Linked DNA regions of Homo sapiens: region 2 is linked to region 1. A link means that fine-mapping ties the variant in region 1 to the expression of a gene that starts in the linked region. Tissue or cell type: whole blood. Region 1 holds a variant in brackets; the other region holds the start of a gene. All regions are shown on one strand. Distances are between the middles of the regions.

What was found. PIP is the estimated chance that this variant, and not a neighbour inherited with it, causes the effect.
Region 2: it holds the start of DAB2IP, and the variant in region 1 is fine-mapped to the expression of DAB2IP in whole blood (INTERVAL, PIP 0.90).

Annotation. Positions count from the first base shown.
Region 1 is chr9:121,802,048-121,810,154 of GRCh38, reverse strand. No RefSeq gene overlaps it. Among named protein-coding and RNA genes, the nearest start is that of DAB2IP, 150 kb to the right of the region's middle. The variant G/A (reference allele first, on the strand shown) is at 4,205.
Region 2 is chr9:121,647,839-121,655,945 of GRCh38, reverse strand. DAB2IP (DAB2 interacting protein) reads right to left here and starts at 4,312. Exons shown (of 16, transcript NM_001395010.1): 1 at 4,047-4,312. The coding sequence starts at 4,170. RefSeq lists enhancers at 777-1,276, 5,735-6,570.

The DNA of each region.
Region 1 (8,107 bases):
ATTCTTCTACTGGTCCTTTTCTTGTTGATTTGTAGCATCTTTGCAGATGAAAAGAATTAGCCTTTTGCCATCGTTTTTAAAAACATGTATTCTACATGGGCCATTTTCTGGTGGCCAACTGTCTCTCCACCTGCAGCCCGTTCTCCACAGGCTGCCAGAGTAGCCTTTCTGGGATGCCAAACTGATCGTGTCACCCCCACACAGATAGAAAACAGCTTCCCGTCACCGGGGTTCAGCTCGACTCCTCACCTGGTTTGGGGGGTCTTTTCCATTTGGGGCCCAGCCTCCTCCCTCCCCCACCAACAAGACCAACCTCCCTCCCCAACCAACAGGACCACCACATGCAGCCGTGAAGGCTGCACTCTGCACAGAGGACAGGGACACACGGATAACCTGAGTTGCGCCCCTACAGGGACCCACCAGGCAGCCCTGCCCAGCTCTTGTGAACTCCTTCATGGCTCCTCTCTCTTTTCGCCACTCCCCAGATGCCCCTTGCTCTGTCATCTGGCCAGCACTGCATCCGGGTCCTTCTTCTGCCCGTAATGCCCCTCCCCATGTGGGCTTGTTGGTGTACACCACCTCCGCTCTTGCAAGTGGTTCCCCCACCCCTTGGTGTGTCTCTTTAAGCCACTTCATGGTGACTCTCTACCAGGCACACCCCAGAAAGGGCTGTGCCCCCTCATATCTGGATCCCACCCCAGCCAGGGCCTGGCGCAGAAGGGGCCCTCAGGACCTGCATGTAGGAGGAATAAGGGAGGGAGGGACCGAAGGCCCCACTGATGGCCGAGCTCAGCCAGCACAGCAGAGCGGGGAAGGCCTCAGCCTAATTTAAAGTCACGCATTTACCCAATAGGCTGCTCTTTCATATAAATATCCATTAAACACTTTGTAAAATGCAAATTTGAAAAAATGCAGCTGACCTGCCCTTCCCAGGTAATTATGGCACGCCTCTCGAGTCTGCAGTGGAGACCTTTTTATTTGGAAGGTCTAGCGCGCTTTTCAGATTATCAATTGAGGCCTTTCCAGAGAGCAGGTTCCCTGCCCGCCCCTGACCCCTCACAGAGGGGCATCCTAGGAGGACCTTGGTGGGCACCAACACCTCTGCCATCAGGATCTCCCAGGGGCTCAGGGCCCCAGGACCCTGGTGTGGGCACAACCAGATGTGGCCCCTGCCTGCCCAGAGCCAAAGGGCCAGGGAAACTTGCTGATGGACAGGCAGGGCTCAACTACCAGCAGAGGGAAGGGCCAGGACCTGGGGCAGGGGGAGGCTGGCAGGAGAAGAGCCAGGCCCCACAGGCCCCGTTGCAAATTTTCTCTTTGCCATTGGAGAGTGCACAGAAGATGACACTATTGGGTTTGTGTTTTTAAAGGTAACCAAGCTTACAATTTGGATGGGGCAAGCGAGGACATGGAGGGGTGGGCTGGGAGTGGGTGCAGGGCTCCAGGCGGGAGGGCTGGCAGCTCCAACTTGGCATGGCCCTGGAGATGAAGGGCACACACTCAAGGGGTTTTAAGCAGGCCAGGTTGACAGCACTTCTCACAGTGGCTGTTCAATTGCCATCTCACCTCCCTGCTGGATTGAAACTCCCTGAGGGCAGAGCCTAGTCATTTGTGTTGGAAGCTGCATCAGTGCATCTAGAACATGGCTCAGCACACAAAAGGTGGAGTGTTCTGGGAATGAATGAATGACAGGTGAGAGGGAATAATGGATGGATGGATGGATGGATGGATGGATGGATGGATGGATGGATGGATTTAACAGATGGGGAAACTGATGCTGTGGGTGGGGTAGGGGGAGGTGAGTCGCCCAGGTGGGACATCATGTTCCCAGTGCACAGCAGACTCAGCAGTAGGGCCAGGAGGGAGGCTCTGGGGTAGTGTGGAATCCCCGGCTCCTCCGCCCTTGCTCACGCACACCTGTTTTCATAACTTGTCATTACCCCACAAACCCACAGGCAGGAGCGCTGTCCCAATAAATAAATCTGGGCCACTTTTCAGCATCGTTTAACGTCCCCAGGAAGGCTGGGTCACGTGGCGTCCAGCCGCAGGCCATTAGCTGACAGGCTGAAGCATATCATATTGAATTCCACGGCCCGCAGAGCCCGCGAGCCCCCGTGCTGCTCTGAAATCTGTGCGGATTTCTCAGAATGCAATTGTGCTGCTTATTTCCTATAATGAACATGTTGCCCCCTCCCCTTGCCAGGACTATTTTCTCAAACCTCCAGGGAGACAGGAGTGGGAGGATCTTGAGCTTACTCCCTGCTGCAGCTTGAGAGGTGCCCGGTGCTGTGGGCTGTACTTTGGTGCAATTTGCAGAGATGGTCTCAAGTCATTGTACTGTCTTCCAGCCTCTACCCCTGTCGTCTGCCCTGTGTCTCCCTGCCACCCTGCCCCTGTCCTCCCGTCCCCTGTCCCTTGCCCCACCACGCTGCCCCCTGCTATGGCAGGGCTATAGATGGGCCAGCCAGGAGGGACTCAACCCCGGAAGCCCACAGCCTGGCCACATTGCAGCCAGCTGACTCTGCCGCACCTCCTGGAAGACACAGGCCTTGGCTTCTGCCTACTGCGGGTGACACACCACACCTACCACGCCTCTTCACAAACTTAAATGGGACAGATGCCCACGCTGGTATACAAACCACACCTTGACAGAACCACATGCAGAAACACATCCGTACATACCCACTCGCATCCCAAGGTAGAGGCTATGCCTTCCCACACCAACTCACAACACCTTAATCACAGCTAGCATACCTGATACACATTCACACACACATCCATACACATACCCCCTCACACATATCCGCACATACACTCAGGCACATATACACACACACAAACACCCCCACACAAGCACACATCCACACACATATCCACACACACACCCTCACACACATCCACACGTACACTCACATCCACACACCCACACACAAGCATACACACAAAGAGTACACACATACACATATACACACATCCACACACACACCCTCACACACATCCACACACACACCCTCACACACATCCACCTATACATTTATACACATATCCACATCCACATACCCATACAAACATACACACACAAAGCACACACACACACATCCACATATACACACATCCACACAAACACCCACACACAAGCACACACACAAGCACACACATCCACATATACACACACTCTCACACACATCCACAATTCATTCATACACATATACCCCCACACACACAGAGCACACACACACCTAAACACCCACACACAAGTACACCTACACACACAAACACACACATCCACATACACATCCACACACACACACAATCCACATGGACACTGATATCCACACACCCACACACACAAAGAGCACACACATACACATATACACACATCCACACAAACACCCACACACAAGCACACACACATACAGCACATGCGCATCCACATATGCACACACATCCCCACACACAGAAACCCTCACACATCCACATATACACATCCACACACACATCCCCCCTCACACATGTACACACATACACTCATATGTATATACACACAAATCCACACACACACATCCACACACATAAACACCCACACACACACATATACTCATACACATGCACATACATCCACACACATTTCTACATGCATTTTGAATTTCCAAGCAGCAGGTAAGCTTTTTTCAATGCAAAGCTTTTTATGCTTATTTTATTCTATTACAATTTTATATATAATTCAATCTACTTTTGGCCTCTCATCTTTTCTCTTTATTTCTAATTGACACAATAATTAATAATATTTATACAGTCTGATATTTCCACAGGTGTATAATGTAATAATCAAATCAGGGAAATTTACACAGCCATCATCTCCAACGTTTATCATTTCTTTGTGTTGGGAGCACACAAAATCCTCTCTTCTAGCTATTTGAAAATATAGAATAAATACTTGTTAACTATATAAATTACTGTCGACTGTGGTCACCCTGTTATGCTATCAAATATTAGGCCTTATTCATTCTTTCTAACTATATTTTTGTACCCATTAATTATCCCCACTTGCCCCGTCCACCCTCACCCTCAACACCCTTCCCAGCCTCTGGTAACCGTCATTCTACTTTTTATCTTCATGAGTTCAACTGTTTTAACTCTTAGCTCCCACAAATGAGTGAGAACATGCAAAGTTTGTCTTTCCGTGCCTGGCTTATTTCATCTA[G/A]CATAATGACCTCCAGTTCCATCCATGACATCCAGTCACCCTACAGTGAGCACTAGAACTCATTCCTCCTATCTAGCTGTAATTTTGTATTTGTCAACCATCCTCTCCCTATCCTCCCTTCCTCCTCCCCTGCCCAGGCTCTGGTTACCACTATTCAACTTTCTATCTCTATGATATCAATTTATTTAGCTTCCACATATGAGTGAGAACACACATTACTACTATTTGTCTTTCTGTGCCTGGTTTATTTCACTTAATGTAACTTCCTCCAGGTTCATCTGTGTTGCCAAAAATTATAGGATTTCATTTTTTTATGGCCGAATGGTGTTCCATTGTATATATGTATATGTATATATGTGTGTGTGTGTGTGTATATATATATACACACACCATATTTTCCTTATCCATTCATCTGTTGATGAGATTTCTAAGCAGCAGGTAAGCTCTTGTTATTAATTCCCACTTTCATTGCTCTGTGGTTAAGAAATATGGCCTTTCCTTTATTGAGCTTACCACAGGCCAAGCATCATGTTAGGTGATAATTATACTAGGTTGAATAAAATTTGAGCCCCACAGCCTAATAACAGAGAGCATAAATAAATCTACATTTACAATCCCAGGAATATAAGGATGGTTCAACATATGTAAATCAATGTAATATATTGTATCTTCAGAATGAAGGACAAAAACCATATAATCATTTCAATTGATGCTGAGAAATCATTTAATAAATTCAACATCCTTTCATGATAAAAACTCTCAAAAAACTGGGAACATACTCCAACACAATAGAAGTCATATATGACAGACCCACAGCTAGTATCATACTGAATGAGGAAAAACTGAAAGCCTTTCCTGTAAGATCTGGAACAAGACAAGGATGTCCACTGTCACCATTGTTATTCAACATAGCACTGGAAATCCTAGCCAGAGCAATAAGACAAGAGAAAGAAATAAAGAGCATCCAAACTGGAAAGGAAAAAGTCACATTATCCTTGTTTACAGATTATATGATTGTATATTTGAAAAAAACTAAGCAGTTCAAAAAACTATTAGAACTGATAAACAAATTCAGTAACATTGCAGGATACAAAATCAACATACAAAAATAAGTAGCATTTCTGTATGTCAACAGAACAGCCTCATAAAGAAATCAAGAAAGCAATCCCATTTACAACAGCTACAAATCAAAGAAAATACCACCAGTAATCCGATTTACAATGGCTACAAATCAAATAAAATACCATCAGAGAAATACAAATCAAAACTGCAATGATATATAATCTCACCCCAGTTTAAATGGCCTTCATCCAAAAGACAGGAAATAACAAATGCTGGCAAGGATGTGGAGAGAAAAGGGAACCCTCATACACTGTTGGTAGGAATGTAAATTAGTACAACCAGTATGGAGAACAGTAAGGAGGGTCCTCAGAAAGCTAAAAGTAGAACTATCATACGATGCAGCAATCCCACTGCTGGGTACGTACCCAAAAGAAAGGAAACAGGTATATCAAAGCAATATCTGCCCTCCCATGTTTATTGCAACATGGCTATTCACAATAGCCAGGATTTGGAATCAATCTAAGTGCCCATCAGCAGATGAATGGATAAAGAAAATGTGGTACATACACACAATGGAATACTATTCAGCCATAAAAAAGAATGAGATCCTGTCATTTGCAACAACATTGATGGAACTGGAGGTCATTATGTTAAATGAAATAAGCCAGGCACGGAAAGACAAACTTTGCATGTTCTCACTCATTTGTGGGAGCTAAGAGTTAAAACAGTTGAACTCATGAAGATAAAAAGTAGAATGACGATTAGCAGAGGCTGGGAAGGGTGTTGAGGGTGAGGGTGGACGGGGCAAGTGGGGATAATTAATGGGTACAAAAATATAGTTAGAAAGAATGAATAAGACCTAATATTTGATAGCGTAACAGGGTGACCACAGTTGACAGTAACTTTTTGTACATTTAAAAATAACTAGGCCTGGTGCAGTGGCTCACACCTGTAATCCTAGCACTTGGGGAGGCCGAGGTAGATGGATCACCTGAGGTCAGGAGTTCGAGATCAGCCTGGCCAACATGGTGAAACCCTGTCTCTACTAAAAATACTAAAATTAGCCGGGCGTGGTGGCATGTGCCTGTACTCCTAGCTACTCAGGAGGCTGAGGCAGAAGAATCTCTGGAAGCTGGGAGGCAAAAGCTGCAGTGAACCGAGATTGCGCCACTGCACTCCTGGGTGACAGAGCAGGATTCCGTCTTAAAACAAAACAAAACAAAACAAAACAAAACAAAACAAAAGACCCTAAACTAAAAGAGTATAATTGGAATGTTTGTAACACAAATAAGTGAGAAATGCTTGAAGTGATGGATACCCACCACCCCCAAAAAAAGTTTGCGATGCAATGTGACATGCAGTGGCAGAGGGAACCCCAGCCCCTATATGTTCTTTAACAAATCTCATATATTTTTCTCTATTTAGGTTGATTCCTTTTGTGTTTCTATTACCTAAACATTCCTGGACCAAAAAATATAGATATTTGTTATTTTTATTTGCTTTTCTTGAATTATTACCATGAATGAGATATTCCCATTTATTTATTGTCCCTTTAATTTCCAATTATTTCTCTTTTGCCTTATTCTTGGATGCTTCAAGCCGATGTTCTAGAATGGATCACTGATTTGACTTTTCAGCACACACATTCTGTTGTCCACCATCAGCAATGACATTCTTTCCTTCCAAGTTCTTGTTTTCAGCCCGTTCCTTTCTCCTAGCAGCACACTCCTGTTTATTGAGGAAACATCACTTGAACCACTCCAGCATTTATTTAAGACCCATTAAGAGGGTTCTGCATCTCCGACATGCTCTGATGGGGAGCAAAGCAAGACTCACCATTGCCCTGTGTTGCAGGTTAGCGGGCTCATCTATTCCTGTAGGGTGCCCTGCTCGGTGCAGGGAGCAGGGAGCAGCCCCACCTCTCCCTCCTGTGGGTTGCTTTCTCCTCTGATGAGCATTTGCAGGTTCTTCCTGATTTGCCTGATGCAGGAGCTTGCTTCCCGGGGGTGCCTGTTAAACTTCAGATTCCATGGAATTGGAGGTACAGATGCAAACCCATGATTTGTAGAATGTGTATATGCACTTTTGTGTGCACGTGGATGTGTATATGCACATATATGTATTTATTTCCTAGTTCTGTCTGCTGACAAGGTCAAGAAGAAAAGCCATTCTACTAGCTCGCAGATCTTGGTTCTTAATACCATTACCCAGGGTTTCTCGGAGAAATGACTAATTTGAGAGCTTGGGCAGGGTAGGTACATTGTGAGCCTGGGACGTTTTGTTACACCAGAAAATAAGGAATGATCAAAAGCACTTTTGGGGGAAATGTCAGCAGCTTAAAGGGGCTGCCGGTGGCAAAATCTAGGACTATTTGAGCACCAAAATAATAAAGTAATGAAATATAAACCCTTAAAAATGGAAATTTCTGAATCTATACCAATAGTAAATAGATTTATCAATATGTGGGGGAGAAGGAGGACCTATGCTGACGAGAGAATTCTGAGAGTCAACCGGCGAAGTGGAGAGATTGTTAGAGTTGGAAAATCATCTTTTGCAACTATCCTAGTAAAGATGGGATCAATTAAGAATCATTCATGGTTGCTAAATCTAGGGGAACATTCTGATGAGGAACAGAATGTTTTCATGGTCTCAAAGTGTCTCCCCACAGACTGCTTATTAGTTGCAAAGAAGATCAAAAAACTCCAGTAATTATACAGTGAAGAAATTGGACAACGCCTTGATCGAGTGATCAAAATTAACATCACCAAGGAAGGACAGATGGCTGTCTTGTGCCTCCAGATGTGCTCCTCTGAGAAGGACTCAATACGCTCTATGCAGGAT
Region 2 (8,107 bases), 150 kb after region 1:
TGGTTAGGAACCAGTTGTATGAAACCATCCTCTCCCACCACGCGGGCAAGATACAGAGGCATGCAAGAGGGGTGTGTACAGGCACGGAGGAGGACCTGACCATCTCAAGAGAAAAACATCTGCAAAACCCCCAGCTCCCAGCCAGGGCCTGGCAGGTGGCTGGACCCCTAGAAAAACTCAGATGAAAACATGAACAACATAATCAAAACCCCTCATGGCTATGGGTATAGGCATTCCAAGAGGCAGGAGAGCAAGATTAACCCCCCTCGACAGATGGGGAAACTGAGGCCCTATGATGTGCCCAGTCATGCAACCAGTCCGCGGCTGAGCTGGAACTACAGCCCCTGCCTCCCACTAACCACTGCTCTGTCCCCTAGAAAGAGACTTGTGCCCTAGTGCACCCCAACAAGCTGGCCTCCCCAACAGACTGGGGGCTTGGCAAGGGCTGGGAGCACATGTGATTCATCTCCATGTGCCCCTGCACCCAAGCTGAAGCCCAGCACATAGTAGGTGCTTAAGAGGAGCTGACTGGCTGAATGAATGGGTCAGAACTTTATCCAGGGCTAGAGGAAAATTTCTGTTTCTCCTAGCAGCCCTGGGGAAACACAGGGGTCAGAGACAAAACTTTTCTTGATTTTGGTGTGACTAGGTGGGGAGGCACCTTGCTGATGATACCCTTCTGGGGAAAGGATCCCCCCAAATCCATGGGACATGCCCAGCCTTCAAGTGGAGTTAGGGACACAGTGGGAAAATGCAAATGGCCCTCACCCTCCGAAGGTCACTGTTTCTACCCCACCTCCAGCTACCCTCCAGCTTCGTGCTCTACCCCCCACCACAGCAGGTCTCACTCTGCCCATCCTTCAGATGGGGAAACTGAAGCCCAGAAAAGGGAAGAACCTAAGTCCCTTATTGGTCAAACTAGGGAGACTGCAGATACTGTCCCTCACTCACAGCCCTACCAGGGACAAAGCCCTGCTCCCTTCCCCCAGCCTGGCCACCTGCAGAACCTGGCAGCAACCAACTCTTCCTTGCATTTTTCTGTTTCTGAACAAATACACAGCCTGAGTTCTTGGTCATTTTCCTTCCCTGCTAGTGCCAGAGGCCAGAAAGGGTGTGGGGGCAAGAGTCTGATCCAGGCTGAGATGCTAGGCACCACCCACTCCTCTGAGGTCCGATGCTACCACACCATGGGACCAAGCCCCCATGTGGATGGGGAGGCTGAAGTTCAAGGTCAGAAGGGACTGGCTCAAAGGCCACAGGGTGGCTTCCTCAGCCTGAGTTTCTCCCTGGGTGGGGCCCTGCCCTCAGGTGGTGGTTGTGGCTCTGGGGTAGAGTCAGGCGTCTGAGGCTTTAGTGGAGGGAGGGCAATGGCTGCCCTAGCTGCCTCCCACCAAGGAGGAGGAGGACAGGGTGCCTCCAGCCTCCACCCTACACCCTGGCTGCAGCTGTAACTAACTCCTCATCACTCCAGGCCTTCTTTTTTTAAAAAAACAAACAAACAAACAAACAAAAACAATATTGAGACAGGGTCTTGCTATGTTGCCCAGGCTGGTCTTGAACTCCTGGGCTCAAGGATTCCTCCTGCCTTGGCCTCCCAAAGTTCAAGGCCCTTTATCAAATCCAAACTACTGTTGCCTGCTCTTCCCCACCCACTCACCCAGCCCCCTTCCCAATCCACTCCCCTCCCCAAACCCAGGAGGAACTCTATTCTCAATACCCAAGCCGTTTTCCTTCTCCCTGACTGCGCAGTCTGTTCATTCTGTCCAGAGAGAAGACAGTAGCTCACCCTCAGCTGCAGCCTTAGTCCCAGGCACTGGCTTCTGGCCCTCACATGACCCTGTCACTGCTAGCCCCATTGACCACACAAGGTCACTGAGGCTTGGAGAGGTAACTGGCTGTAGAATAGTTGTGTGCACAGCTGAGACTTGAACCCAGATCTGACTCAATTACTCCCTCTGCGAAGGGAAACCCTATCCATTTTGTGAGATCCCATCCAAATGTCACCTCCTCTGTGAAGCTCTCCCTGATCTCCCCAGATATAACTTCTGTTCAGAGACAGTCTCCTCCCCGCTCTGCAGGCCGTGAGCTCCTTCAAGCTGGGACACAAGCAGTGATCCTGTGTATGTGGGGTCTGGGAGCTGGGGCTCAGGTGACAGCCCCTGACACATTGATTATCCCCTGCCTGGTCAGCTGAGCAGGAGGTCAGCTGAACAGGAGCGAGACTCCCATTACAGTCAGGGATGGAACTGGGCTGAGGTGAGAAGAGGAAAAGGTCACACAGGGCATTTCTGAGGCAAAGGAGGGGCGGGTGGGTGAGGTGACGTGAGGTGGGTGCAGAAGGAGAGGCCCCAGGGTGGTCTGAACAGTACTGGGCATTTTCAAAGCTCCCATTTCTCAGTTTCTTCACTGAATCCTCCACATACGGCAGGTCCATTTTACAACCAGGAAAACTAAGCTCAGAAAGGGGAAATGACTTGCCCAAAGTCACAAAGCTTGAGCCCAGATTCCCGGTCTCCCAGACCAAGTCCAGGGGAAGGGAGTAAGTACAGAATTAACAGTACTAAGCCTTTCTCCAGGTCTTAGCAAGTACAGAATTAAATAGAAGGACAGAGATAGAAGAACCAAAACCTGAACCACTGAGATAAAGCCTTCCCCAGGTCTTTAGTACTCCCTCCAAGGAGTACTAAAGGCTTAGTACTCCCTCCAAGGAGTACTAAAGGCTTAGTACTCCCTCCAAGGAGTACTAAAGGCTTAGTACTCCCTCCAAGGAGTACTAAAGGCTTAGTACTGTTAATTCTGTACTTACTAAGTAACTTAGTACTGTTAATTCTGTACTTACTAAGACTTCAGGAAAGGCAGGAGTGGGGGGATTGCAGGCTTTGAGAGACCCTTGAGGACTGAACTACCAGCACACACCTGTGCACACACTTAGCCTCAGCTTGAACCCTTCTGTGCACAGGGAACTCACTACTTCCTGAGGAAGCCCTGGACTGCACAGTGCTACTCAGACCTGACTGTGGGAAAAGTCTTCCCCATTCTGGTGGAAGCAACCGAACACTACCTGCCTGCTTCATTTACCCTCACACCGACAAGAAAACTGAAGTTCAGAGGCAGCTCAGCCCAGGTCACACAACGGCAGCCTGCAGGGTGGGAATGTGGCCCCTCTTGGTCTACCAGATTCCCTGCATGGCATTTGTTGGCACAGGGCCCGGCTTCCCACTTTCAAGATAACCTGATGGTGTCAACTCGGCCCAGGTCCCTGCTAAGGCGCCGTCTTTCTCCTCCCTTCCACCCCACGGGCACCCTCGGTGGGCCTGAACCTCTGCCTAGGACTCCAGCCTCCCCAGAGCCCCTTTGAAGGCCTCCTCCTCCCAGGGGCTTCCCTCCCTCCTACTCAGCCAGGGAAGGAAGTCCCGGCCACCACCCGCCCAAACGCAGCCCCCGGGATCACACGCATTTCCAGCCGAGGATCCTGTTACTGGAAAAAGAAAATGCTGCTCGCACCTCCCCCTCCGTCTCGTCCTGCCTCCTGAGCTTGATGGAGAGAAACTTTGCAAAGGAGCTGGCGCCCACCCGCTCGAGGGGTCACGGTTCCTTCCCTGAGGTCCACCCACTTGTCCTAGCACCCAAGAGGTGGGGAGCCCGTTAAGTTCCTGGAAAGGGAAGAAAGAAGTCCGCGGCCTGGGCTGGGAAGGCAAGGTGTGGGAAAGCTCAGATCCACCCTGGGTTACTTTATTGCCCGGCTGCTGAGTAAACTGAGGCACAGTGGGGTAGGAGGTCTGATCTGAGATGCGGAGAAAGATTCCAGGCTCCCCTCTCCCTGTCCCTGGCTTAAGAGGAGACCCTAGAGCCTCGGCTTCCCCCGGCGAGAGGAGGACTAAGCAGAAGCTGGGGGAATGGGGGGTCCGGCAGACTCAGGAAGGGGCGGATGAGGAAACCCCCGGCAAATGGCTGGAAGGAGGATCCCGGTCCCTAGCATCCCAGGGCATCAGGTGGCTTAGTGGCCTTAGGAGGGTCTAGGGGTCAGGGGTCGGGGTGGCGCCTACCCCTGGCAGGCCGGGTCCGGCTGCGGGAGCGGCTCCTCTGTCGCTGCAGCCGGGGCCGCCTCAGCAGCCGGTAGTAGTAGGAGGACCTCCCGGTGCTCTTCCTGGCGCTGCCGCCCGCGGACATGCTGCCGCCCGCCGGGCACCGGGCCGGGCCTGGGCGCGCTCACACGGGCCCCATCGGCCGCTCCGGACAGCCCGGCGGGCGCCCACGCGTTCTCCCGCGCTCGCCCGAGCGGCCGCCGAGGCCCTGGCTGCCCCACAAAGTCGCTCAAACTCCTCCTCCGCCTCCTGCCCCCTCCCGCTCCCCGAGCAGCCGGCCCCGCGGCGGGGGCTGGGGACCCGGAGGCCGGGCTGGCACCGGCCCGGAAAGTCAGTGCGGGAGAAATCCCGGCCTGGAATCGGCGGGGCGAGGCGGCCCGGAGTTTCCCCGGGACCCCAGACGGGTCGTCCCGAGGGTTCTGGCTCCCACCCCCGCCCCCGAGGGTTCGACCGTCGACCTGAGGGCGCACCAGGCACCCAATCCCGCCAGCGCGGGTAGACGGTGCACACCTGCTTGTGCGCTCTCCGGAGCCCGGGGTAGGACGCATGCTTGGGGACGGTCACCTTCAATTAGGGTCCGTTCCTGCCCCAGGCTCGCTGGGCTGAGAAACGACCCTCACTGCTCCGCAGGCCCTGGCCCAGCCAGGTTGAAAGACTCCCCTGTGATGCAGGATACTTGCCTCTTCTTTACGTTTTAAAGGTTGTCCCGTCTGATACACGTATCATTTTTATGTAATTAAAATTACGGTGTCTGTTTCAAGCACTCAAAGCACTGAAGGCAGGGCAGAACAATCCCTACCCTACCGTAGGCACCAGAAACTCAGGGTGGCAGAAGGAAAGGTACCAACTCCCTCTATTGCATTGGCTGAAAAACTTTCTCCAAGTCACTCCTCAGCTCAAGAGCTTTCCGTGGCTCCCCAGAGCACAATGGCAATACGTCTAAACATCCTTGTTATTTGGACCCCAAATAATCTTGCCCCAACCAAAGTCCCCTCCAGCCTCACCTCTGCTCCCCCTAATTCTCACTTCTCTTTGCTGTGCTGCCAGCAGGGACTGCCTTCTTGGCTATTTTCTCCACCCGACCAAAGTCCACCCTTTCAGGACCCAGCTCCTCCACCCTTCCCTAACCATGGCCCACAGTGATCTCTCTCTCTCCCCGCCCCTTATCTCTTTAGCAATATTCGTCGTTTAAATTATTAAGACACCTGCCTGAGCTGCCTCCTTTGAAGTACAGAGGGGGAAACTGAGGCCTTGGCAAGGAGGTCTTGCCTCAGTCACATGGAAAGTGGCAGAGGCAAGTGGTCTTAGCCTGGGGCTCTCAACATTCAGACTTAGGGGTGGGGGGTGTGAGTCACCGCAAGTGCCTGAGGCCGGCTAGGGGATCTTCCTCCAGAACAGTGGGGAAGGTGGGGCCCTGGAGTGGGCGGGGCCGTCTGGGCAGAAATCCAGGCCGGGTTTTGCACCTCACAGGGGAAGCCCCCTCCCTAGCGCTCTCAGCCAGCGGGGAGGGTCCCTAGTCCTGCGGAGCCTGTCTCACAGCTGGAAGCCAGGCGCCTTCCCTGACCAGGGGGGAGGGGCAGGAGGGGTGTTACTCCAGCAAACTCAGTCTGAGGAGTCCAGAGCTATCAGCTGCCCTGGTCCCCTCTTCCCTGAATACTGGCCAATCCCACAGGAAGATGGAAAACCAGGGTGCCCAAGAGGACACCCTTAGCCTCCTTTGGGTTAGGCCAGGGGTGCCCAATCTTTTGGCTTCCCTGGGCCACACTGGAAGAAGAAGAATTGTCAGGCCACACATAAAATATACTCACACTAACCATAGCTGATGAGCTAAAACAAACAAACAAACAAAAAAACCACACACACAAAAAAACCTCATCATGCTTTAAGAAAGTTTATGAATTTGTGTTGGGCAGCATTCAAAGCCATCCTGGGCCACATGCAGCCGGTAGGCTGCAGGTCAGACAAGCTTGGAGGCATTGCCCTATCTCCTTTCAACAGCAGACATGGTGCAGGAACGTCTCTAAAAAGAAGCCCCTGGACAGAGCGCACACACAGTCACTCAGTCCCCAGGCAAGCTGGGGGCCTTGTTAGCATGCATCCTCCTCTGGCCAAACTGCCAGAACCCAGTTCAGTGCCTCCTCACGTAGGTGGGGTTCTGAGCACCACCTGTCCACATCTTGGCACTTCCAGGCATGACTAACCTCCGTAGCCAGGTCCACGGGTTCTGGGGGTGAGGGACTCCCAGGAAGTCCTACTCAGGACGGGGGCAACGGTCCTGCTCCCAGGGCCTGAGTTCATCTGGCCCATTTTGTTTCCCAAAGCAGGAACCCTCTGATCAGCCAGGTTCCAGCCCTCCCTGGAGGGGACGGGAGGCTCACAATCAACTCACTGTTATCAGTGGTGTGGGCAAGTGGTCTTAGCCTGGGCCCCCAACAGGAAGTCTGAGGAGTGTGTGTGGAGGGGAGAGGGGGCAGTAACTTGGAACTCAGGACCTCATCTGTAAGCACAGCTGGGCTCCAAAGGTCTGGCATGGTCTCCCCACTTCAGCTTTTCAAGTCCTTCTCTGTGCCTTAGTTTCCCTACCTATAGGGAGAACGTATGGACCCCCAATCCATCTGCCTTGTGGAGGAAGGAGGGTCAGCTAGTGAAATGGAGGAAGCTTGTGCATTTCTACCCTTGGGATGGGAATGGGCATCGCCAACCAGCTGAGCCGAGCATCTCCACGGGCCTGGGGCAGGTACTCTCCGGGTACTGAGTGGGAAGGGGGCAGGGCAGGAGCTAGGAGAGAAAGAGCCCAGGCTCCTTTTCCTTCTTCCTGGCCCAGGAACAGGGCAGTTAAAGGCCGCTCCCTGTACAGCCCAGCAGGGGACCTGGAATCAATCCTGCTGGGAAACTGGCCCCCCATCTGCTCCCACCTCCCGCCGGCGCCCCTGTGGCTTTCTCTCTCTGAACAGGAGAAGCCCTGCTTCCAGTGCCCACCACCACCATTGCTACCACTGCTTCCTGTGACAGACCAACAGATCGGACTTTCCAGCCCTGCCAACATGAGAGCCTCAGTACCTACAGGGCTAAAGGTCTGGTCTTATTCTCCCACCTCCAGAGGGGCTCCTGAATAGGCCCAGCTCCCACCTCTCCCATGTGCTGCTTTAGCGGGGACAGGGCTGCAGCCCCCAAATCACCTTCACTCAGTGAACAGGCATATTTCTGAGTTTCCCTCAAGACGCTCAATTCAGTGGGTCTGGATGGGGCCTGGAAACATGCAAGTTTAGTAAGTAGGGGTGTGGGTACTAGGACTGGCTAAATCAGATCTGACCTAACCCCACCACCAGCACCTTTACCCTCCCCTCAAAAGCCTCCCAAGGCGAACTCTCAGAGACCAAGCTGTGTCAAAAAGCGACCACCTCCCGCTTGCACCCCAACCCATTTCAGCCCCCTTGGTCATCCTCCAGACACTCTTTCCCACCACCAGTCTTCGCCCTGTTGGTGGGACCTGGACCGCTGCCACCAAGGTCTTCCCTCTGCACCCACCTGGTGCATTCCTGCTTACCCTTCAGGACCCAGCTCAAGCATCCCCTCAGTTTTTTATTTTTTAAATTTTTTATTTCCATAGGTTTTTGGGGAACAGTTGGCATTTGGTTACATGAGTAAGTTCTTCAGTGGTGATTTGTGAGATTTTGGTGCACCCATATCCCGAGCAGTAACTTGGGATACACTAAACCCAATTTGTAGTCTTTTATCCTTCACCCCCTTTCCACCCGTTCCCTGAGTCCCCAAAGTCCATTGTGTCATTTTTCTGCCTTTGCATCCTCATAGCTTAGCTCCCACTTATGAGTGAGAATATATGATGTTTGGTTTTCCTTTCCTGAGTTACTTCACTTAGAATAATATTCTCCAATTCCCATCCAGGTTTCTGGGAATGCCATTAATTCATTCCTTTGTATGGCGGAGTAGTATTCCATCATATATATACATATATACCCGTATATATATATAATACGTATATGTATGTATATATATAATAT